Linked DNA regions of Homo sapiens. The protein of the gene in region 1 interacts with the protein of each later gene in a biochemical or structural test. Each region holds a gene or a part of one and is shown in the gene's direction. Other genes may lie near its edges.

The links.
Region 2: the proteins of SH2D3C (region 1) and PTPN3 interact in a test that uses a peptide from one of them, tested with the Homo sapiens proteins (one large-scale study listed by IntAct).
Region 3: the proteins of SH2D3C (region 1) and SIPA1L2 interact in a test that uses a peptide from one of them, tested with the Homo sapiens proteins (one large-scale study listed by IntAct).
Region 4: the proteins of SH2D3C (region 1) and LIMK2 interact in a test that uses a peptide from one of them, tested with the Homo sapiens proteins (one large-scale study listed by IntAct).
Region 5: the proteins of SH2D3C (region 1) and SNTG2 interact in a test that uses a peptide from one of them, tested with the Homo sapiens proteins (one large-scale study listed by IntAct).
Region 6: the proteins of SH2D3C (region 1) and SNTG1 interact in a test that uses a peptide from one of them, tested with the Homo sapiens proteins (one large-scale study listed by IntAct).
Region 7: the proteins of SH2D3C (region 1) and APBA2 interact in a test that uses a peptide from one of them, tested with the Homo sapiens proteins (one large-scale study listed by IntAct).

The regions. Positions count from the first base shown.
Region 1 is NC_000009.12:127,751,167-127,754,666, reverse strand, and holds part of SH2D3C (SH2 domain-containing protein 3C), read left to right. Parts: intron 1-3,366; coding exon 3,367-3,495; intron 3,496-3,500. UniProt on the Homo sapiens protein: Acts as an adapter protein that mediates cell signaling pathways involved in cellular functions such as cell adhesion and migration, tissue organization, and the regulation of the immune response.
Region 2 is NC_000009.12:109,407,808-109,411,307, reverse strand, and holds part of PTPN3 (tyrosine-protein phosphatase non-receptor type 3), read left to right. Parts: intron 1-892; coding exon 893-1,079; intron 1,080-1,231; coding exon 1,232-1,309; intron 1,310-2,930; coding exon 2,931-2,987; intron 2,988-3,500.
Region 3 is NC_000001.11:232,462,634-232,466,133, reverse strand, and holds part of SIPA1L2 (signal-induced proliferation-associated 1-like protein 2), read left to right. Parts: intron 1-717; coding exon 718-1,294; intron 1,295-3,500.
Region 4 is NC_000022.11:31,257,298-31,260,797, forward strand, and holds part of LIMK2 (LIM domain kinase 2), read left to right. Parts: intron 1-993; coding exon 994-1,129; intron 1,130-1,823; coding exon 1,824-1,933; intron 1,934-2,591; coding exon 2,592-2,780; intron 2,781-3,500. UniProt on the Homo sapiens protein: Serine/threonine-protein kinase that plays an essential role in the regulation of actin filament dynamics. Acts downstream of several Rho family GTPase signal transduction pathways.
Region 5 is NC_000002.12:1,265,349-1,268,848, forward strand, and holds part of SNTG2 (gamma-2-syntrophin), read left to right. Parts: intron 1-2,016; coding exon 2,017-2,223; intron 2,224-2,723; coding exon of another isoform or gene 2,724-2,747; exon of another isoform or gene 2,748-3,500. UniProt on the Homo sapiens protein: Adapter protein that binds to and probably organizes the subcellular localization of a variety of proteins. May link various receptors to the actin cytoskeleton and the dystrophin glycoprotein complex.
Region 6 is NC_000008.11:50,792,907-50,796,406, forward strand, and holds part of SNTG1 (gamma-1-syntrophin), read left to right. Parts: 3' UTR 1-3,500. UniProt on the Homo sapiens protein: Adapter protein that binds to and probably organizes the subcellular localization of a variety of proteins. May link various receptors to the actin cytoskeleton and the dystrophin glycoprotein complex.
Region 7 is NC_000015.10:29,115,895-29,118,815, forward strand, and holds the end of APBA2 (amyloid-beta A4 precursor protein-binding family A member 2), read left to right. Parts: intron 1-1,167; coding exon 1,168-1,239; 3' UTR 1,240-2,421; downstream 2,422-2,921. UniProt on the Homo sapiens protein: Putative function in synaptic vesicle exocytosis by binding to STXBP1, an essential component of the synaptic vesicle exocytotic machinery. May modulate processing of the amyloid-beta precursor protein (APP) and hence formation of APP-beta.

The DNA.
Region 1 (3,500 bases):
GAGTGAGGAGCAGGAAACGCGGGGGATGCTTCGGATGCCAGGGTTGGGGCCAGAGCGCCCGCCACCCTCCCGCCCTCTAGGTGGGCTTGGACATGCCTGGGGCGCGGGTCTCTCCCAGCCCAGCTGGCCGGGCAGTGCAGGACGGCGCCGCGGCGGTGAGAGGGTTAAACGGAAGGGGGTGGAGGGGAGGACCCGGACCCCGCCTCTCTGCGGAGCATCCTTTGGGGATGGCTTTGCTTGGGGTTGGGACGCCGAGGGGAGCTGGAGGGGATGCTGGGCTCGGGCTGGCGGGAAGGGGTTAAGACCCTGTCCGGGGGTCTCCGCGCTCCTGCCCCCTGAGCCCCCTGGGAGATGCCAGGCGCGTCGGCTCTTCGCTCCCCCAGGCTCACACACGCTCGCGGAGCCCGCCTGAAGGACTGCCCCGCCGGCGGCGGAGCGCAGCATCCCCGCACCGGCCAATCAGGCGCGCGCAGGCCGGGAGGCGGTGAGATCATCTCTGGCCAATAGCAGGGCGCCGAGCGCAGGGATGCTGCATTCGCACCCCAGCACCCCCAACTCTAGGGAACTGGGGGCTCCCAGGTCGAGGTGAGATCAAGGCACAGGGACCCTAGGATTCCTCACCCTCAGGTGTGTGGGAGGACCAAGTTGGTCCCCCCAAACTCTCCGTGACCAGTGATTAAGCTGGAAAAGGGGAGCCCAGTCTCCCAGCCCCTTTAACGGATGAGGCTGCCCAGGCCCAGAGAGGGGAAGTGACTGGCTCAAGGTCACACAGTGGCAGCCTTGGGGCGGTTCTTCAACATCCAGCCTCCTCCCTCCTTTGCCCACGTCCCTCTAGCTCCAGCTGTGGAACTGGGGGAAGGTCTCAATCGCATGCCCTTTGTCAAGGAGGACGCCAGAAGGCTGAGGTCTTGGTTCCCTTTTTCCCTGTGACGCCCACTCTCCCCTTTCCAGGGTTTGGTGTGATATGAGGAAAGAGGACTAGCCTGGTGTGAGCACCGCAGAGTGAGAGGGAGAGAGACCAGGGACCCCCAGAAGTAGGGGACCCCTTGGAGAAGTGTAGGTGTCTGAGAAGGCCCAGATCCTAGCCCAGCCCTGGGCCTCTCTGCCCTTCGGGGGCATCGGTTTCTACCACGGCCGGAGGATGTGCAGAATTCCCACTCCCAGGCCCCGCCTTTCTCCTGAGCACCTGTGCAAACCGCCCACTCCCACCATCTGTCCCCAGAGCCCTGCAGGCTCCTCAAGGTCCAAATTTTCATGGGTCCACCACCAAGCTGCTCCTGCCCCAGCCTTGCCCACTCAGAGCATGTCCCAATCATCCTTCTAGGATCTCGGCCAGGAGTCCTCTCTGACCCCTCCGCCCTGCTCCCCCACATGAATCAATGGCCATCTAAACTCCCTTTCCCCCACTCCTTCTGCCCACGCCTTATCTGCCCTGCCACTGCCTGGAAAACCCTAGGCTGCTCTCCATAAGTGGACTAAACCTGCCCCAACACTTCCAAACCCCTCCATGGCTCTGCTGTGGCCTCCAGATAAACCCCAGCTCCCTGAGGCAGCCGTGCCACACCTGCCCCTGCCCCCACAGCCCCTTGGAAGCTTCTTATTCATCTCCCCTCCCTCCCCTTGGCTCTGCCCGTAGGACCCTGACTTTGCCGCTCTCTCCCCAGAAGCTCTTCCCTGTCCACCTGTCCACCTGCCCTCTCCACCCTGGTGCTTTTGCTTGGCTCACCCAGTCCTTCAGACCTCAGCAGAAACACCACCTTTTCAGGGAAGTGATTCCTGACTCTGCCCCCTGACTAGTTTGGTGGTGCACCATCTCTGTGCATCTCGGGACATTCAGGAAACCTGGAATTGATTGTCAGTGTCTGCAAGGCCTCCCCCAGGGCAGAGGCCACCTTGGGTCCTCAGCCCTGGCACAGGACCAGGATAGGGACCTAGTCAATGTTGAATGGAATCAGAGATTCTAGATATCTCTGACACTGGGAATCATGGTGTCTTGGGAGCAATGCAGACTAGGCTAAACCCAGGCAGTATGGGAGCAGAGGGGTGAGGGATGTAGCCACAGAATTAGGAGGCGAGATCTGTGGATAGTCTGAGGAGGCAGGGAGTGGACTGGAGGACCTTCGGACTCTCAGGAGCGAGGGGCCCCAGGGAGAGACTCACCTGGGATGAAGGCCCTTTACTGCCCTCCCTCATCTGTCCTGCCTTCTGGCCAGCGCTGGGGTCTGTCTGTCTTGGAGTAGCCATCTTTGGGGCCTGGAGGTGGGGGAAGGAGAGGAAGAACCATCCCATGTCCTCGCAGTGATGAGGATGTCCATGTGCTAGTAGTACTCTGGAGTGCTGTCTCTTTTCATCTTCGCAGTGAGGTGAGGCAGGTTCTGTCACTGTACCCATTTTAATGAGGAAGAAATTGAGGCCCAGAGAGCTCACAAGGCACAGCCAGGATTGGGCTGGGCTCTGGTGGGCGTACACCTGGCATTAAGGGCTTCCTTTCCTCTTCCCTTAGGGCCCCTGGGATCCATCAGCCTCCAACTTCAGGCCACAGTAATCAAGAAACCAGGAGTTTCTGGGCCAGGTGGGAGGGTGGAGTACTGGACATTATCTCCCTCAGTGGCCTTGGGCTTCCCTGCTGGGCCATGGTCTCCCCATCTGGGTGAGGATTGCTGAGGATTTCAAGGGAGAAATGGCCTTGGAAATTGTAAGGGGCAATGCAGATGTCTGTTTGGGGTCCCCGTGTCCCTGTTTATAGTCCCTTCCCCACCCTTGCATTGTAGAATGCACCATCCCAGAACGTATCCTTGTCCAACCAGTTCTGTGGTTTTGTTCATAGCTTTTCCTGCAGTTACCTGCTGCCTTACCTCCAAGATTCACCTGTAGAAATCCCCCTCCAACACTTCAAGAACAGTTTGGTGCCCTTGGTATATAATGAGTGTTTTCTTACTGCCATCTCCTCCAGGAAGGCTTCCGAGACCCCTCTGTCGTGCCCAGGCTTAATCCCGCTTGTAAAAGCCACCCGGCTCTTTGCCGCTGTCCAGCGCTGTGGTGCTGACCGCACTCTACTCAGAGGCTCCTGTTGCTTTTGCCTCTCCTCAGACTAGGCACTGCCTTGAGGGCCGGGCTTGGTTTATATATCACTGCATCCACCCCTGGCATATAGCACAGGGCCTGGAATGCAGCTGGCATTGTTTTGTGGAAGGAATTGAGATTTCTTTACTCTTTCTGGGACCCATGGGAAAGGGTCTGGCACCTGTGCCTTAGTGTTCCCAGAGTCCCAGGATAGGAGGAGTTCATCCATGGTAGAATGAAGTTGGGAGGGAAAGAAGAAGGAGACTTTAAGTTGGATGCCAACTCTTGCTGTTTTCTACCCAGTTCTCCAAGGAGAAGTACATCCTGGACTCATCGCCAGAGAAACTCCACAAGGAATTGGAGGAGGAGCTCAAACTCAGCAGCACGGATCTCCGCAGCCATGCCTGGTACCATGGCCGCATCCCCCGAGAGGTGAG
Region 2 (3,500 bases), about 18 Mb from region 1:
AGCCATGTGACCCTGGGCAAGTTACTCAGCCTCTCCTGACCTCAGCTTCTTCATCTGTGAACTGGGAGTTAGAACAAATGACCACAAAGTTCTGTTCCGTTTTCATCATCTGTAACTCTCTAAGACAGCGCTGTCCAGCAGGACTTCCTGCCGTGGTGAAATGTTCTCTGACTGCACTGTCTCATACGGGAGCCACTGGCCGCATATGGCTAGTGAGCATGTGAAGTATGGCTGGTTTCTTGTCTTAATTTATTTAAATTTAAGTAGCCACATATAACTAGTGGCTACCATACTAGACAGTGCAGCTCCACGATACAGAAGAAACTATATTCGATAGAGGAAAATGTAACAAGATCTCAGCGTGGCAGTTCATGGATGTCACAGGCAAATCATGCCAACTAGGAATAATATAAATTCTCCTGAACGCACAACAACAACAGTCCTGTTTCCTTTGAGGAGGCAAGAGTCCTATGAAGCAGAACCATCCGCAGAAGTGAGACAGAAGGAAAAAAGCTTTCAGAAGGGATGGGCTGTGCATCTGCATGAGCTTGCCTGGCAGAGCCTGGTTCAGTAATGAAACCACCAGAGGAGCTGGACACATTTCCCTGTCACCCTTCTAAAGCAGCGGGGAAGGGAGCAAAGTTTTCAGCAGTTTCCAGATCCACCCTGCCTCCTATCCCTTTTCCCCAAAACCATGTGACAGTGTCTAGGCCAGATGCGGTCAGGGGTGGTCAGTGGGCCCTGGGTGTACTCAAATCCCGCTGACAACCTATGCAGCTGAGGTTCCAGGGAAACATACAGCCCCCAGCTGCCAGGCCCCTACAGTCAGTAGTGTTTGCTCTAATAAAATATTAACCCAGTTATTAATATCTCCTCCTTCCCCATGATGAAGGAGTTTATCCGAGAACAATCCGGCACAAAGCTACCTGACCCAGAAGTCATCCAGTTCTGTGTCTCCATCTTCAAATGCTCCAGGCTCCTGCTCACCTGACGGCGTTGATCAGCAGCTCTTAGATGACTTCCACAGGGTGACCAAAGGGGGCTCCACCGAGGACGCCAGCCAGTACTACTGTGACAAGGTGAGCGAGCGCAGGCAGCCGGGTGATCCACACACCCAGGGCTTCCCGGCCTCTTGTGGGCAGCTGAGTAGCTCTAACTAAATGAAAATATCTTATCACCAACTGCTGGAGAGAGATGTGATGCAAATGACCACTTTCAAACCGTTTTCCAGAATGATAATGGTGACAGCTACTTAGTCTTGATCCGTATCACACCAGATGAAGATGGAAAATTTGGATTTAATCTTAAGGTATGTTGTGTATTTATAAAGGAAGTTTTGTGCTGGGAAGCAATCTTTCAATGAGTTTTTAATTTGCATTACAAATGTGCTGCATTCCTGAGCTACATAAGGAAGTTGGTTCAACCCTCAGAATTGAGAGTTGGGGGTTTTTTTTGTTTTTGTTTGGTTTGAGATATTTGGGGTTTTTTTTGTTTTTTTTTAAAAACTCACTTTATCGCCCAAACCTAGAGTGCAGTGGCACGATCGCAGCTCACTGCAGCGCTGACCTCCCCAGGCTCAGGTGATCCTCCCACCTCAGCTGGGACTATAGGGATGCACCACCATACCCAGCTAATTTTTTTCATATTTTTTGTAGAGATGGGGTTTCACCATGTTGTCCAAGCTGGTCTCAAACACCTGGCAATCTACTCACTTTGGCCTCCCAAAGTGCCGGGATTACAGGCGTGAACCACCGCACCCAGCCTAGAATTGAGAGGTTTTTTTTAATGTGGCCTTAACAGCTGCCGAAGGCCAAGTGCCTGCTCTGTGCCTGGCATTGGCTATCCACTAGATTCATAGCACCTTCTTAAGTTCTGATAACAAGTGGTAAGGTCAGTATTTTTAAACCCATTTTGCAAATGAATACTGAGGTTCCCAGAAATGAGGGCACACAGTTGGCAAACAGATCTACCCACTTCAGGAATGCTATTAAGAGAACCCCTCAGCATTGCTAAAGCTGATAAGAGAAAAACAATTCAAGTTCAACCTGCAGGGCCACCACTCTCCTCCAGGCACCTTTAAGCAGGATCTGCAAACTAAACCCACAGGCCAAATCCCATCTGTTTCTGTAACTAGTTTTTTTGGTAACAGCCACAGCCATTTGTTTACTGGTGGGTTAATGACTGCAGAGTTGAGCAGTTGAATCAGAGCCCTCACTCCCACAAAGCCTCTCTGGCCCTTTACAGAAAACGTTTACTCATCCCTACTCTAGGACAAAGTGAGGGCAGGTGGTCGCCTACCCCCCAGCTGCCATCATGCACAGCCTCATCTGCCCCAGCAGCTGTGTTGAGGACCAGCGCTCACAGGCCAGATGCGCTCACAGGGTGTGCCCCCTTCCCAGGCCTCGCTCGCCTCTGCTGAAAGCCCCTATATATATATATATAAAGCCCATATATATATATATTAAAGCCCATATATATATATAAAGCCCATATATATATATATATATATATTTTTTTTTTTTTTTTAATTATTATAAGTTCTAGGGTACATGTGCACAACGTGCAGGTTTGTTCTAGCAGCACTCGAAGACATGCTGTGGAGTCCCTCTCTGGGGGCATCTGCGTTTTTAAGGAGGAGCTTCTCTCTGAGTGTATCTGTTAGTTCATGGACTGTGGGGATGGCAGAGGGAGGCTTCTGAACAGAGTCCTGGTCAGCCCGCTGGATCCAGAGGGGTCAGGAATTTGTTCCATATTTCTGAAATGACGTGTGATTCGAATCAGTCATAGTGAAGTTTGAAGCCTCCCTGTACCAAAGACTCACATTTATTGGTACCTCCATGTTGTTGATGCTGTGAGCTACTCGTTTTTTTGTTTGTTTGTTTGTTTAACTTAAAAAACTTTGTTTTGTTTTTATTTTAAAATGTTTACAGGGAGGAGTGGATCAAAAGATGCCTCTTGTGGTATCAAGGATAAACCCAGAGTCACCTGTAAGTAAATACATTCCATGTTATTCCTCGTGTTTGTTTGTTTCCCCCTAATTCTAACAGGTTTCTGTTTCTGAGTCCTGTTTCTTTTTTTGCCAGAGCAAAGAATGTGCTTAGATATACATCACCATGTTTTCTATAACCTTGCGGCTCAGTGTGGTCTTTGAAGCCATAGCACCCATGTTACCTGGGACCTCATTAGAAATGCAGCATCTCTGGCCTCAGCTTAGGCCTGCTGAACCGGAATCTGCATTTTTAACAAGAGCCTTGAGTGGTTAGTGTGCATTCAATTTTGAGAAGTCCTTTTCAAGAGAAGGAAACTTAGGCAGTCTGCTGTTCTGCTCACTCTAAGTGGGCACGTGGGCCCTGTGCCTCTTCTCACCATCTTTCCACCAGTGCCCCTTTTGTCATCTGTGTAGGCCTCCTAAGAAGAGCATTTGCTTTGTTTTTCTTTCAAATTTATTTTATTGTTTTTAGGCCAGGCATAGTGGCTCACACCTGTAATCCCAGCACTTT
Region 3 (3,500 bases), on another chromosome or scaffold:
CCCCACAGAGTTATAGAGTGCCAGCCTGCTTATTCCACATGCTGTGGATGTGTTACCCCCTGTATTAGTTTGGTAGCACTGCCGTACTAATGCCACAGGCTAGGTGGCTTAAACGGCAGACTTTTATTTTCTCAGAGTTCTAGAGGCTGGAAGTCTAAGATCAAGGTGTCAGCAAGGATTGGTTTCTCCTGAGACCTCTCCCCTTGGCTTATGGATGGCCGTCTTCTCCTTGTGTCTTCACATGGTCTTCTTTCTGTGTGCATACATCCCTGGTGTCTCTTTGTAAGCCCAAATTTTCTCCTCTTATAAGGACACCAGTCAGTTGGATTAGGGCCCACCCGAATGGTTTCACTTAGCCACCTCCTTAAGGGTCCTTTCTCCAGATTGCGTCACATTCCCAGGAACTATGGGTTATCTTGTCAACGTGTGGATTTTGAGAGGGACATAATTCAGCCCATTACACCTCCTGTCTACTAAGTTTAAAGCATTTTGCTTAAACAACAATAACAACAAACCCTGGGTATGCAGCAATTAGGAGAACAAGAACTTGCAGAATAAACCAGTTAAGTTGAAAGTGTGTGTGTATGTGTGTATGTATATGTGTGTGTGTGTGTGTATGTATATGTGTGTGTGTGTGTATATATATGTCAAATTCGGAAAGATACATATTATGGTATCATAGCTCATCTCATTTTGTTTCTGTTTTTACTTCCTCAGTGTTGGAGTTTCCAGATCAAAAGATGTGCCACCATTTGGCCCACCGATTCCCAAAGGTGTAACTTTTCCAAAGTCAGCCGTGTTCCGGGACTTCCTTTTAGCCAAAGTAATCAATGCAGAAAATGCAGCCCATAAATCAGAAAAGTTTCGAGCAATGGCCACTCGAACGAGGCAGGAGTACTTGAAAGATCTGGCGGAGAACTTTGTCACAACCGCCACCGTGGATACCTCTGTGAAGTTCAGCTTCATTACGCTGGGTGCGAAGAAAAAGGAGAAGGTAAAGCCAAGGAAGGATGCCCACTTGTTTAGCATTGGGGCCATCATGTGGCACGTGATAGCCCGGGACTTCGGCCAGTCTGCTGACATTGAATGTCTTCTCGGGATCTCCAATGAGTTCATCATGTTGATTGAAAAGGATTCCAAGAATGTTGTATTCAACTGTTCCTGCAGGGATGTGATTGGGTGGACATCTGGATTAGTGAGTATCAAAGTGTTTTACGAAAGAGGAGAATGTGTCCTCCTGTCCTCGGTAGACAACTGTGCTGAAGACATCAGGGAAATTGTTCAGCGATTAGTAGTAAGTACATGTTTTCTATTTTCCCGCCATCCTTATGTTTTCAATTCCAGATTCAAAATAACTTTCACTGGGGAACTGCTACCATGATTATACCAATTAGGGAATGCATTACTATTTGTTACAGATACAGAGCTTAATTTTAAATGCTGGGTCCTTTTGGGGAGTTGTTGAATACATGAATGGTGGAGAAGCAACCATCATAAATCAATTGGAAAAGAAAAGTTAAGCCAACCTGCAAAAGAGAACATTAAGATGTATTTTAGTAGCATTTGAAGGAAAAACAGAAGTGTCTGGGTAGAATGTCTGTTTATGGAGGCTGACATAACATACCTTCCCAGTGGGTAATTAACAACAGAATTGCTGTTGACTGTATGAATGACGAGTCCTATCTGCAGTTTCACCCCTGCATGTTTATACAGCAGCTATTTTTGTTTAATGTGCCAGATTAAATATATTATTAATCTTAGAGCCACAGTTTCTTAAGGGAGTTTTTCAGAATTACACATTAATTTAGAAAGGCTTTTGAAAAGTTAGACTTAAGAAAGATTTTCATGTATGTGATTTTTAGTGCAAAACCCTTATATTTTATCCATGGTGTTCAGTAGTCATATTTCTGCTCCCAATTTTAACAAAGTAAGAATCAGATTTTAGTTTGAGCATATAAAATAAAGTAGTAAGAATAAATCAAACTACTTCTAGTTTTTATTTTTGGTAATATAAGAAAAAAACATGCTTTGACAATAGAATTTCTTGTGTGTAAATCTTCCCCCAAGAGGGATGTAATTTTTTTTTTAATTAGAAAAGGTTTAGTTCACTATGGATCATGAGAAAAGGAGAAATTATATCCATTTCTTGCCCCCTTTCCTCCCACCAAAAATATTTCCTCCCTTTTGTTATTAGAGACCATGTATAAGAGAAGGTAAAATCAGGGCAGTGTCTGCTAGCCTTGGAAAAGTAATTTCATTATTTGTGGACTCTGTTTACAGTAAAGGGCCTCAGTGTGTTCAACAGTATTATCAGGTATACGTGAGCAAGCCTAGATAAGAGTTTGGGGTGATTAAGTAAATGATTAGTTTATATACCTAGAGAATTGACTTGAATTATACTGGTGAGTCTCTGGATGCATTCTGCTTTTGCTAATTGCAAATACTTCTTTTTAGCATATCCACCAAATCATTATAATCTGTGCTTCTGAAAATACAACACAAATACCACTTCACCAACCACAAAAATGTACTTTCCCTGGATATTTACACATGGGCTTTTATACATTTGCTATTCGATGGACTCCATCCTATTTTCCTAGAAAAGTGTATTGTCAGTGTGACCAAGATGCACAATATTACAAATATATTTTAGGAATTATATTCTGTGTCTAGGATGACTTGCAACATGAGCTGTTGGAAACAAGCCAGACCAAAGACTGTTGAAGGGATTAGATCGTAAGGGTTGATGCAGAGTGGTAGTAACAGAAATGGGAAGAAAGAGAAGAATGCAGTCTTAGTGGAGATGTTGGGAATGCCTGCCCGTTTGGCAGATGGTTAACTCAGTATCCATTCTCAGGTGGTGGAAAGTGGAACTAAAGGGTCTGTCTTGCAGGTAACAGTACAGGAGCAGAATGAGAGTTTGTTCCTAGAGGGCCAGGCAGGGCTCACTTCACGGATGTGCAACCCATGCAGTTGCACAGGGACCCGCTCTCAGAAGAGTTCGTGCTTGGTTGAATGCTCTGCCATTGCCATCTTGAAATACTTACTAATTTTTTCATAAGGAGCCTCGCATTTTGATTTTTCTTGTGGCCCCACAAATTACATAGCCAGTCCTGGCTTGGAGACTACAATTTTCGTGTGATAATTGGGTCCATGGAAGAAGTCCAAATACATGGAGAACACCTTACTTCAGACTTTGGGGATGTTAGGAAGCAATAAACAGAGGGGATAAAGAAATAGCAAAAAGACAAAGTAGGGGAGGTGGCAGGTGATTGGAGGAAATGAGCAGAAGAGCCAGAGCTGGAGGACTCTGGAAAGGCTCAGCCAATAACTCTTCAGCCTGATACATGGATGATAAACTTCACCTGATAATCGCATTGATATTTGAAAGAAGGCTGGGTACATCTTATGTGTCGTCTTTTGATAGGATTGCTTAGAACAAAGTTGAAAAAGAAGTGACCAAAATTTATTTGTGTTGTGCCTATTACAGAACTACTTCT
Region 4 (3,500 bases), on another chromosome or scaffold:
ATGTAGTTCAAAGAACACCTACATACCTTTCACATAGATTCATGATTTGTTAATGTTATGCCACTTTGTATATATCTCTCTCCCTCTATCTGTATACTTTTATTTATTTATTTTTGCTGAACTATTTCAGAGTAACTTAAAGGCATCTTGATTTTACCCTTGAACAGTTCAATATGTTTCTGCTAAGAATTCTCCTATATAAGTCAGATATCATTACATCTAAGAAAATTCACGGCAATTTTACAATATAATATTATAGTCCAAATCCATATTTCCTCAGTTGTTCCAAAAAATGTTCATGGCTGTTTCCTTTTTTAATCTAAATTTGAATCCAAGTTTGAGGCATTGTATTTGGTTGCTGTGTCTCTAGGGTTTTTAAAATCTGTGCCTTTTCTTCTCCCCATGACTTTTTAGAAGAGTCAAGACCGGTTATTCTTATAGAATAACCCACATTCTAGATTTGCCTGATTAGTTTTTTTATACTTAACGTATTTTTGGCAAGAACATTACATTGGTAACGCTGTTGGTGATGGGTCAGTTTTGAAGAGTGGAGATGATTAAACTGCTTTTGTTCATTGAAGTATCTGTCAAGACCAGAGATCCTTAACTGGTGCCATAAATAGGTTTCAGAGAATCCTTTATATATACACCCTGTCCCCCACCTAAATTATATACACATCTTCTTTATATATTCATTTTTCTAGGGGAGGCTTCTTGGCTTTTATCAAATTCTCAGAGGGCCCCAAGACCCAAAGAGGTTATGAAACACTAGTCTGTCCACTGAGGCAGGCAACACAGAGCTGGTTTCTGGGGCCTTGTTCAGTCTGAACCAGCTTCCCTTGGGGAGATAGCACAAGGCTGTAACTTTGCCCCATCTTGGCTTTGGATCAAAGAGGACTGTCCATTTTGTTGTCATACCTAGGAACCAGGGACAGCTTATGTGGCCTGGTTCCAGGGATCCAGGAGAATTTCAGTTCTTGTCTTGCCTTTCAGGTGTTCAGAATGCCAGGATTCCCTCACCAACTGGTACTATGAGAAGGATGGGAAGCTCTACTGCCCCAAGGACTACTGGGGGAAGTTTGGGGAGTTCTGTCATGGGTGCTCCCTGCTGATGACAGGGCCTTTTATGGTGAGTGAATCCCTTCATATCTGCCCCTCTTGGTCTTCAGAGTCCATTGACAGTGCTTCCAGTTCCCTGTGGCCTGTTAATCTTTTAGTCTTTCCATCAGCCAGGGCATCTCCCTTTATTTATTCATTCATTCAACTAGCAGGTATCAATTGAGCACCTACTAAGTGAAAGGTAAGATCCTTCCCTCAAAGACTTAATAGTTGAACGTTGGGAGTGGGAGGAGAGGCAGGCAGAGAGGAGACACAATATAGTTGGATAAGGACCTCCAAGGAGAGTGTTACAGGCTGAGAGGAGGATATACTTAGGTTGTCTTTAGGGAATCAGAAAAGGAGACTCTGGAATAGGCTGGCAGAGAGAGGGGCTACCTCCTATACCTGCTCTGGACAAACGACTTTAAGCATAGTGACAGACTTGCCAACCCTGTATTGGAAGAACTGATCTTTTTTAGTGGGGATGATTACTTCTGGGGATTTCTTCTCATAACTGAGACCAAAACAGTTTTGTGCAGTCTCAGAAATGACAGGAGGTACCAATCTGACACTTCCTTTGGAAGCTCTAGGGCAGAGAGTGAAAGAGTGGATTTTGACGGGGGCCTTGCTTGGAGGTCATTCACCCACCCCTGTCCTCACTCCAGCAACAGTGATAACTCACTTCCTTCCTCCCTTTGTACACCCTTCTCCCCACCTGCTCACAGGTGGCTGGGGAGTTCAAGTACCACCCAGAGTGCTTTGCCTGTATGAGCTGCAAGGTGATCATTGAGGATGGGGATGCATATGCACTGGTGCAGCATGCCACCCTCTACTGGTAAGATAGTGGTCCTTTGTCTATCCTCTCCCATATAAGAGTGGCTGGCGGGGAGGGACAGTGGCAGGGTGAGTTGGGCAGAAGGAGTGTTAGGGTAGTCAGAGCATTGGATTCTTACCACAGCAGTGCTCTTAACCAGCTCTTTAACTTGTAAGCAGAATGATTTACACATGTCTCTACCCTTTTTCCTTACCAACCTTGAAAATGTCTTCACTCTGCCCTGCAATCCTCCCAGTGGGAGGCACTCTTCAAGGACGATCCCAGAACATTAAAGTCAAAGACCCCTTAGAGCTCACCCTGTCCAACCACCTTGGTTGATAAAAGAAGTCAGCCTGGGGCCCATGGAATAGAATAGTACAAGGGCAAGGTTCTCATTGTGAGTCAAAGGTAGAGTGAAGAGAACCCAGACCATCTCACCCCAACCCAGGCCAGTGTTTTTCCAAATATACCACTTGCTGCAGATCTAGCTCAGCACCCCCAGTCCCAGCCCACCCTGAGAACCCAGGCTCCTCATTCTGAGCAGCCAGCTAGAATCATGACAAAGAGGGTGGTAGTGAGACTATGGGTACTGTTGCTTAAAGCCACATGGTGCAGTGGTTGCTGGGGGGCTTCTGTGTGGGACTCTAGCATCTTATTCCCCCCTGTGCCCTCTCCCCAGTGGGAAGTGCCACAATGAGGTGGTGCTGGCACCCATGTTTGAGAGACTCTCCACAGAGTCTGTTCAGGAGCAGCTGCCCTACTCTGTCACGCTCATCTCCATGCCGGCCACCACTGAAGGCAGGCGGGGCTTCTCCGTGTCCGTGGAGAGTGCCTGCTCCAACTACGCCACCACTGTGCAAGTGAAAGAGTAAGTATTTTGAGAACCCTTCAGCAGGGGTTCTTGAGCAGAGTCTGTAAATGGGCCTCAGAGGGCTTAGACCTCCAAAGTCTCATGCAGAACTCCCTTTATTCTCATCTCATATCTTTCTCCTGGACCCCACTATGCTGTAACCGTACCTGGGCCTTGGCACTTACTGTTCTCTCTGCCCAGGCTACTTCCTACCCGATACTTAAGGCAAGAATCACTCACCTTTCAGGTGTCAGGTTTCAGGTCATGTTTGCTCTTTGAAATCATCTGGCTTGATTATGTGTATTAGTTGTTTATCTTCTATCCCCTCCACTAGAATGTAAATTCCAGAAGAAACTTGCTGTCTTATTCAGTGCTGCATGCCCAGGGCTTGGAAGAGTACCTGGCATATAGTAGGAGTTGATTGATTATTATTTTGTCAGTCGAGAGAATGAATGGAGAAAATGTGGTCCATGGCCCAAAAGAAGTTAAGACCCTATCCTAGATTCAGGCCAGAGACCAGATGGAGAAAGAGTCTGTGTCTATCTAATACCAGTAATGTCGTACCTCTGGCCGCTTACCATGTAAATATTGATTGTGTATCTACCATGTGTTGGACACTAGGCTAGTGCTTGCACAGCAGGTGAAAGATACTAGAGTTTGGGAAGTCAGGAGGAGCTAAGGTCTGTTCTACAACCTTATTAGATGAAGAGGAGAGGGAATTGTGTTCAGGGCAGAGGG
Region 5 (3,500 bases), on another chromosome or scaffold:
CACACATTCATGTTCACATACATTTCCACACATACACATGTTCATGTGTGCACACACATTCTCATGTGCACACATACACACACACATGTTCTCACGTGCACACACCACAAGGCATTTGATGTCTGGATGATGCACAGGGATAAATGTGCAATGCTCTCCATGATCAGAGGGTCATCCTGCAGAGCCATCTGCGGGGCCAGGAGAGCCAGGGCATCCCCCCGGAGAGTCCAGAAGGCCCACCTGAGACACACCAGTCGTAGCTTTTACCTCAAACCTGTGCCTAGAGTGCATGTGTCAGCATATTTCAAGTAAAACTATTTGGCCAACTGCTGAGTTCATGTGGATTTTGGGACTGGACCTTGAGCGTAAGTGTGAGTGGGGACTGTCCAGCTTGGCTGGTTGGCACAAGTGAATGGAGATATCTCAGAATCATGATGGGAAGACCCAGCAGGTGGGCAGCTCCCCTTCCTTTCTGCTGCCATATGCAGGGCTGTGGGTGAACACCACATTCTCATTCAGGACTTTGGAAACCCCAGCCCAGGTGTCTCCCCTTGTTTCCCTTCACTGGGGAGAGACTGGTGCAGCAAAATTGATGTTGGGGTGCAGCGTCCCAGGAAGGTGTCTGGTGGGGGCTCTTCAGGGTGGATCTGTGGACCAGTAAATGAATGGGTGAGCTGAGAACTGAGGTGGGTCCAGAGAGAGACAGACAGAGACAGAGAGAAGGATAGAGAGAGACAGAGAAACAGACATAAAATAGAGAAACAGAATGACAGAAATGGAGAGAGAGAAAGAGACACAAAGAGAGACAGAGACATAGAAATGGAGACAGAGAGAGAGAGAGAGACAGACAGAGACAGAGAGGTGCCAGCCAGGTATTGAGTGCGCGTTCACCATGCACCTCCATGCTGTTGACCTAGTAATTGTGACAACTGGGACCCCCAGTCTTTCTCTTCTGCCCTTGATAAAATGAATCCCGAAGTGGGGTGCAACCTTGCAGATGGGGGAAAGAAGTGGGGAGCTCCCCAGGCTGCTCCATGCAGCACAGGCTGGCAGCATCCGAATCGCCGAGTGATTAATAGACGTGCTGTAAGTAACTTACATCTCTGGGTTAAACGATTAACCAGAAATGGAACAACATCATTACATCATTCCCTTTGTCAGGCCTTTGGGTTGGCAGAATGAGCTCCTGGGTGGCCGGGTGCCTTGTCATGCTTCAGAGGCGTTTTGGGCACTCGGTCCTTTATCTCAGGACAATGAACCCGCAAGGAGAGGAAGAGCCAGTAATTCTATAGAGACTCGGAGGCGCAGGGGGCACGCTTAGTTAGAGTGGTGGTGGTATTTTCAGTGTTTTCTGGTTTTATGATAAACACAAGCATCAATGTCTCAAGACTTTCATCTTTATCTTTTTTTTTTTTTTCTTGAGACAGGGTTTCCCTCTGTCACCCAGGCTGGAGTGCATTGGTGGTGTGATCTTGGCTTTCTGTAACCTCGGGCTTCTGGGCTCAAGCCGTTCTACTACCTCAGCCTCCCAAATAGCTAGAACTACAAGCGTGTGCTGCCACACCTGGCTAATTTGTTGTATTTTATTTATTCATTTATTTTTGTGAAGACAAGGTCTTGCCATGTTGCCCAGGCTGGTCTCAGACTCCTGGGCTCAAGCAATCCACCCACCTTAGTCTCCCAAAGTGCTGGGATTACAGGCGTGAGCCACCACACCCAGCTTCATCTTTCTCTTCACCGTAAAACAGGAAAGTGTGTGGTGACCAGTATTTTAAGGGAAAGGCACTTACAGAGAATTAAGCATTTGACAAAATTTATTTACAGATATTTGTCTGTGGACCACTTCCGCACCAGCTGTGCATGAGAGGGCTCATTGCTCTGAATTTGCCTCCTTGTCTGCACCCAGGAGACCGTTTCCCAGATCACGCAAACGCTGCCTTCTCCCCACACCAGGGCCCTCAGCATGGGAATGACCTTCCAGCGCTGCACGTTTCCAATCCATGCTCTGTTTTTCAGTTCTGGCTCACAGAGGACTGCTGGTTGCAAGCAAACTTGTATCTGGGTCTTCAAGATTTTGACTTTGAGGACCAGAGGCCCTATTGCTTCAGCATCGTGGCCGGCCATGGGAAGAGCCATGTTTTCAACGTGGAGCTTGGCAGCGAGCTGGCCATGTGGGAGAAGTCCTTCCAAAGAGCCACGTTCATGGAAGTTCAGAGAACCGGGGTAAGTGAACAACTCACACTCTTCTCACCTACACCTGCTCGGGTGTCTGAGACATAGCATTGGGGAATATGTAGCAGTTTATCGGGGGAAAAGAGGAATCTTCAGAAGGTGAGAATCTTTCACCGGAGCTACTGTGTGGAAATGATCGTTCGCACGGAGTCATGCGCTCCGTGGATAAATATGAGCTGTAGTGGAAGGGAAGGGGAGGAGAGGATTTTGTGTCTGTGTCTACATTGAATGTGAGGAACGGGCTGCATCGCTTTCCAGGAAGGGACTCCACCGATGTGGCGCTCAAGTTCCTGAGAAGTGATGACACTTCTAGCCTGTGCTCCGGGAGACAGAACACCTAGCTTACAAATGAGTATAATGTGTCGTGCAGTTACTTGGATGTTTGTAATATTTTAAGGCACTTTAATGGTTCTTCCTCTCAAACTTGATGGTCCGAAGGAGAATATAAAACAGCTTGTGTGTCTGAATTGCTTTTCTCTTCCTGACAACAGCAAATACATCACTCACAAATTTGAATGTATACCATGTGAAGGGATGAGGAAGAATGCATTATAATCCTCCTTATCCTAAATAGCGGGATGATCCTTCAGGGAGGATGTGTGCTGCAGGAATGAAGAGTGACAGGAGATAAATGAGGCAGCGCATCCCAGAGGAGCTCTGACTTCACACCAAAGTCCAGGGCTCCCGCCTGGCTGAGCGCGGAGAATGCTGAGTGTGAACTTAGTAACTAAAGATGGCTACTTCATTTAAATATACATATATACCTTGAATGTGAAACTATTCTGTGTTATTTATCTTTCATTCACGTTGTCAAAATGTATCCAGGCTCCTTGGCATGCCATCACAGAGCACGAAGCTTCCCTGTAACTAATGCACACTGAGATCTCTTAGTCCACAGAATGAAGTCACACCCAGATCTTCATAGAAACTGATGCCAATGTTTATTCTCATTTATCCCAGGCTGCTGTGATTTTCCCCTCAAATTGGGCACCCTAAATTGGAATTATGGTTGATTCCTGATGCTTAAAGTAACCTTTATATTTGAAGCATCCAATTCATTAACCATTATAGAACATTACATGCTGGAAAGAAAATTACTAAACATAGGATCCTTCATCTCAGGGACTTACTCAAATGTATAGTGGCATTTAGCCACTTAGAAACCATCAGCACTAAAGGTTCAAGTCGTTAAAAGGCAAAGTGAAAGAGCGTTTCTGGGACAAGGTGACCTTTCTGCTTGTTTTCTTTAGATGATAGCAGTAATCATT
Region 6 (3,500 bases), on another chromosome or scaffold:
AACCATAACATCACCAAGTCGACAGTGGAGGCAAATCAAAATTTCGGCAGAAAAAGAAGGTCATGTGGAACCTCAAAAACACTTCTATTCTGGATGACATCTGTGAAATATACTACATGAACAGAACAGCTTGTTCTCACTCAGTTGCTTTGTACCAGTAAGTGTATTGCTTTCACCAAAAGTGGAGACAAAAGAATAAATTATTTGAAGAAGTATGTAAATAACATAAAAATAGTAAGCTACCTATGAATAAAAATACTTATTAAATGATTACTTCTGTATTTTAGATTATTTTGTATGACTAGTACATGTTGGGCAGAGTCATAGGAAAACAAATGCCCTATCTTGTATTATGAGGGACATAAAAGAGTTAAAAACCATAAATCAGCAAGGAGCATGCAAAAAAATCTCATCAAAGAAGGATGCACTTTAATTTGCTGATGTAAATTTGCCCTTGTGTTCTCATCCCATGATTTGACACTGGCATTCCAATTGTTTTTATCTTATTGTAAATATTCCGAAGAACTTCCAAAGGATAATTACATTGACCCATGATAGATACAATGTGAAATGGACTATTCTCCCTTGGATCACTGTTATTGAAATGTCTTATTAGCTGCCAAAGTCAATCAAATATGCCAACAGTGTATTAATTTAATTATGAGTGATGGAAAATTTCATGAACCTCTCATTTCTTCCTTGGTTTGAAAGAGATTTGTATTTTACCTAATAAGATTTATTATCAAATTAAAGTTTCATAAATTTTCAGTGAACCCAAAACCTTTTGTAGAGAAAATAATATAAACAAATATGGTGTGAGAAACAATTCTTTGTAATCCGAAGTCTACTAGTTAATCATGAACTAAAATGTCCCCCGAAAACAGTCCCAAAGCTATTATAGATGTTAATTAAATGACATTTTTTCATTTTAGTACTATTTTATGAGAAACAAAGGTGATATTTAAAGATAAAAGTTAAAATTCTTTAACCTCCCTTGTCATGGAAAGTGATTAAGTAATGCCAACTATGCAGGTTGTTTTAGGTATTTTGTCCTAAGAATGTAAATGTGAAAGGCTGGGAAATTTGAAAGCCTTAGAGGTGTGCAATTTACTCAGATTCCAGGTATTATTCAACTAGTTGTATAACATGGAACACAGTCTCTGTCCTTCAGTACAGCTTTTTTGAGATATTTTAAAAAGTCAGCTGTGTATGTAAAAAAAAAAAAAAATTTTTATTGATACACATGCTCCCAGGTAAACCAAGTATTATGTGTGTCCTTGTGGAGATAACCAAGTATCTAATAAATTGATTCAATTTTTTTTTTCAAATATGTTTTTAAAAATCACTCAAGAAGGAAACAAAGTGATTTCTATAAAGGACAGATTTACTAATTTAAAAAATTAATATCAAGTTGTTTTTATACTCATGATTCATTAATTTATTTTGCATCAGATTAATTTGTAAATACATCAAATTGAAAAGAAAAAGTGAGGGTTTATAATTGTCCCTGGGAAAATGTTAAACTGAATCTAACATACCTTACCCAAAGAACTGTGGCAAATTACAATAAACAGTTTCAGTGTAATGTATTTTGACCGTAAAACTAAGTACACATTTGTAATTAGGATAGAACTTTAGAATTATTGCACACTATATTGATCAAATACAACAGTCATTGTAAAATTGAAACCCACCAAAAGCAGCCTTCAGTAGTAGGCCACTTCTGAACTTATGGAGAAAAAGCAGTGGGATACATCGAACTTAGAATTTTCAGCTGTGGCAAGTGGTTCATTATGGAACTTCTGCTTCCAACCAGAGCTGAATCTCAGTGTGCCCCATATTGGGGTTACATGAATGTGTCCACAATCTGGAAGGCAATATGACATGGGCTAATTATCCATAAGCAAAAGAAAAACGTTTCAACAGTTTACCTACCTGTAATAGAATGATTTAAAAATTGTGAAATTTTGTAAACGTTCCATTTTAGAATTTAAAAAACCTATTAACCATTAGCTATCTTTTTAGTGTTATTATGAAAATTTAGCCTATGCTCATGTGTGTTACGAAGGAAAAGGTGCACAATGAGATATGTATAAATATATATCTCCTCAGAGAATACACACACACCTACATATGTATTTATATGCATACATGGGTGTATATATATATAAATATAATGAAATGCTGACCATTAATTATATTAGAAGAATGTTTTGTGTACATACATTTAATATACTTTAAATTACGTTGTAAAATGTAGCTTGATTAAAAACTTATGACAATACCATTATGAATATTTTTGATACTATTGATAAAAAACATAAGCCGTGATTTTTATTTAACATGATTAGTACAACAGCCAAAAAGTAACAAAATACTATTCTCGTTTTCATCAGTTTAACAATTAGTATTTAATGTTTTCTTTACAATGTGGTGATTAGTCATTGGCATTTGTTATAACTTGGACTACTTGAATGAGAAAGCTTTGAAATGAACAAAAACACTTAAAAATTTCTATCTCTCATATAATTTAGGTTTACATGTAAGAGATTTATTCATAAAATCCTAGTTTGTACATTAAGCACATTTTAACAGCAAAATGCTAATGTGTTAACCCCTCCAGTGCCTTGGTATGTGTGAGCGTGTATGTGTGTTTGGGTGTGTGTCTGTGTATGTGTGTGAGTGTGTAAGTGTTATCATTAAAGGGTTCATTACAGTGTACATAACACAAGCTTAATGGAGAATATTGTAGGTATTTAGGTCAGAGAATGAAGTTCAAAGTCATTTGAAAACTGCTAACTACTATAATAATGTCTTTTGCCTGATAAAGAATAACAATTCATCTAAGTCGAAGTATATTACAGAAAGGGCATTTATAATTTGTTAAAATGCAACAAGTATTTATTTAAAAAATAGTTTAATAGATAGTGTAAGTGTAATGTATATCTGAACACTTATCCAGCTTTTTTAAAATGGGAGGATAATCAGGTAATTATTTCTTGCCCATATTTCAGGCATGTACCAACTTATAATTTTGAAATCTTCGCTCATAAAGCTGTCATTCAGCAAGAAAAAGAAAGCAATTACTTGAAAATAAATGTCAAGTCCATATTAGCCATGCAAAGAGAGAAATTTTCCTTTGGGTGCATTAGTTTATAGATCAACATTTCCCTCATTTACAGTGCTGAAGCTTGATCATGAACTTTGTCTATGTTGAATGCTGGATTTAAGAAAAGCTTGATTTATTACTGAGAAAAATTAATAATCCTAACGATAATTTAGAATTACTGCTAGAAATCAGCAGTGTGGAGAAGCTTTAAAAGCACAAGGATGATCTTGTGCTTAACTTTTTAAGGTAAGTGTAGATGTTCGGATACTAATAACAAAGATTTTGCTACTATTAATATTGCTGTGCTCATAATTTCTCCTTATGAAATTGCTTTATTCATACTTCTAAAATTGTTCTTTATTGTTTATTCTTACTACCGAATACTTTAAAA
Region 7 (2,921 bases), on another chromosome or scaffold:
GGGCAGATGCACGGCGGCTGCACCCCGTGGGGAGGCCAGCATGCCTGCGGCAGCTGACCCTGGCAGTGCGAGGGCCCCCCATCCGGAGGCCGCAGCCTAGCACAGTCCCGGGCAGGACAGGGGAGAGCGTCGTGCTCAGGAGAGGAGAAGTGGGCAGTAGAGCTCCCTTTCCGTTCTTGAAGCAGACGTTTAGAGTCTGCTCCTTCCCAGTGTCCGCAAAGAAGGATTACAAGGCGCGCCACCCACACGGTTGGTCTCCCTGGGGCGGTCTGAGGCCTTGCTTGTATACCCAGCTCCTTTGGAGTCAGGGCTCGAGGCCAGGCCCCAAAGGGTCATTTGCTCACCGATCCCCAAAGGCTAAGAACTTGAGGTGCCCTGGGCCCCAGCGAGCCTGTTCCCAGCCCCCAGCACACTTTCCTGGCCCGTGTGTGTTTTGTAAGAAGGGGTGTAGGCCGGGCGCGGTGGCTCAGGCCTGTAATCCCAGCACTTTGGGAGGCCGAGGCGGGCGTATCACGAGGTCGGGAGATTGAGACCATCCTGGCTAACACGGTGAAACCCCGTCTCTGCTAAAAAATACAAAAAAATTCGCTGGGTGTGGTGGCGGGCACCTGTAATCCCAGCTACTGAGGAGGCTGAGGCAGGAGAATGACATGAACCCGGGGGGCAGAGCTTGCAGTGAGCCGAGATTGCACCACTGCACTCCAGCCTGGGCGACAGAGCAAGACTCCGTCTCAAAAAAAAAAAAAAAAGAAGGGGTGCGTGTGTCTTCCCCCATTGAGCTCCTCCTCAGTGAAGCAGAGTGCATCCCTCGCAGTTTCTGCCGAGGCCTGGCCACCCCCAGCCAGCCCCAGTGGATGGGCAAACTGTTGTCACCACTAGAAGTCCAATTTCTCACCCCTCGGGTGTCAGCTGGACTGGAAGCAAAACTAGCACTCAACTGTATTGACTCCTCTGGAGCCAGGGGTGGGGACCTGGAGTCTCAGTCTGCTGCATCTGGAAGGCATCATAAGTGTCCCCAGGCCTGGGCAGGCTGGCCTTCCTCCTTCACTCTAGGAGATGGGCATTTGAAGCAGAACTCTGGGGGGTTTGCCTCTGTCCTTTGCTTTCACCTGATTGTGGGAGGGGAGGTGGGAGGGCAGCGGCTCAGCCTCCTGTTTCTGTCCGCAGATCCACATGAAGACCATGCCCGCCGCCATGTTCAGGCTCCTCACGGGTCAGGAGACCCCGCTGTACATCTAGGCCACCCCAGCCTGGCCACGCAGCCAGGACACCGGGCAGGGCCGCCCGGGCCCAGAGGAGCTGGGAGCCGGGCCGCAGACTTGACCCCGACGCCACAGCCCAGCCACGGACGCTGGCTCCCCAAAGGGTGTGCCCTCACCACCCACTTGATTTTTTTCATTTTGCCAAAAAGGGGTATGTCTTTATCAAAGGAGAGTCACAGAACAAATGTTTGTTTGTAAAGCGTTCCAAGTATTTTGCCACGTTCTGGACTGTCTTCTCCCTGCACAAGCCAGGGTGTGTCTCGGTAGCTGTGCGTGGTGTGGAGTGTGTGTCTTTCCTCCCTGAAGCTGTGCGGAGCGAACTGGCGCCTCCGAGGGACGCGGCTCCCGGGGCAGGGCAGCCGTCACCCCTGCCTCCCGCCCCCTTGGCTGGGACGTCTGGGGTCCTGTGGGGCCCCCACAATGGTCCCAAACAGCTGCCTCTGCCACTGACTGCAGGGACACGGGCAGCCTGGCTCCCAGGACACGACTTGTAATGAAAGTTTGGGGACATGTGATTGATTGATTGATTGTAAATAAAGGATGATGGCCACAACATGAAAACTCCATATTTATTTAGATGCTATTATTACTGTTTGGACTTTTATTTTGGCAGGCTTTTTTCCAGACTCTAGGGTTTTCCAATGTGACTAATGACCACACCTGCCTCTCCCGTCGTCTCTTCTGGGCACCCTCCCACCCGGCTGCATACCCGGGCAGGGCTCCCACAGAGACAAGGAGGGCACAGGTGTCTGCCCCCTCTTTAAAATCGATCTACACACATCCACGCACATGCGACCCCGAGGAAACGAAACCCACTCTAGAAAACGCGACCTTGGCCGCACCTAAAGCAGCCAGCCGTGAGTGCAGACCCCTTGGCCAGCGTGGCGCAGTGGCCCTGAGCAGTAGTGGCATGTGTGTAGATCAAGTCGGATCTAGTCCAGCTCGGTTCATTAGCGATCCATGTAATCTGACGTCATCTTGTCTCGAAGTCTCTTTTTTTGGCCCAGGCCTTGAAGAATACACTGTGACTTAAGAAGCCTTACCACGCAGTAACTAAAGCTTTAGGATGACTGTATTCGAGGAGTGCCGTGTGTTGCATGCAGCTACCCGTAGGAAGACTTCGCGCATATCACTAATAAACCTGAAGTCGTGATGAAAAGCCGTGTGTGTGACTGGTCTGTTACCTCAGCGGCGGGTGCCCGCCTGTCCTTTCATTCACAGCTTGGATGCGGCTCTGCAAATTCACTATGCGGTGGCAGCCACAGCTGCTCTGTGCTCCTCCTGGATCCTGAACCTTGGAAGCTGTCACTAATGAGTTCGGTGGGTGGGTGCTCTGGGCACCAGGTGTCAGCTGGGCAACGCCCCGCTGCAACTGGAGGTGCCAGCAATGCTACCAGGTCACGGGGTCAGCGCCAGGTTCTTGACCCACTTGCCCCAGCAGGGAGACACGTCCGCAGAGCACTCACTAATGGAATGAGGGAGCCAGGGAGCCTTGGGCTTCTTCAGATTTCAACGTAAATGGCCCCTGGGAAAGGTGTGCATGCGTGTGCGTGTGTAAAAGCCGGACCGCCCATCCCAGCACCCTGTCTGCACCTGTGGGTCCTTTGCAGCCTGTCTAGAGTGACAATTCTGGCAGCTCTGCCAGCACTTACCTTTCTT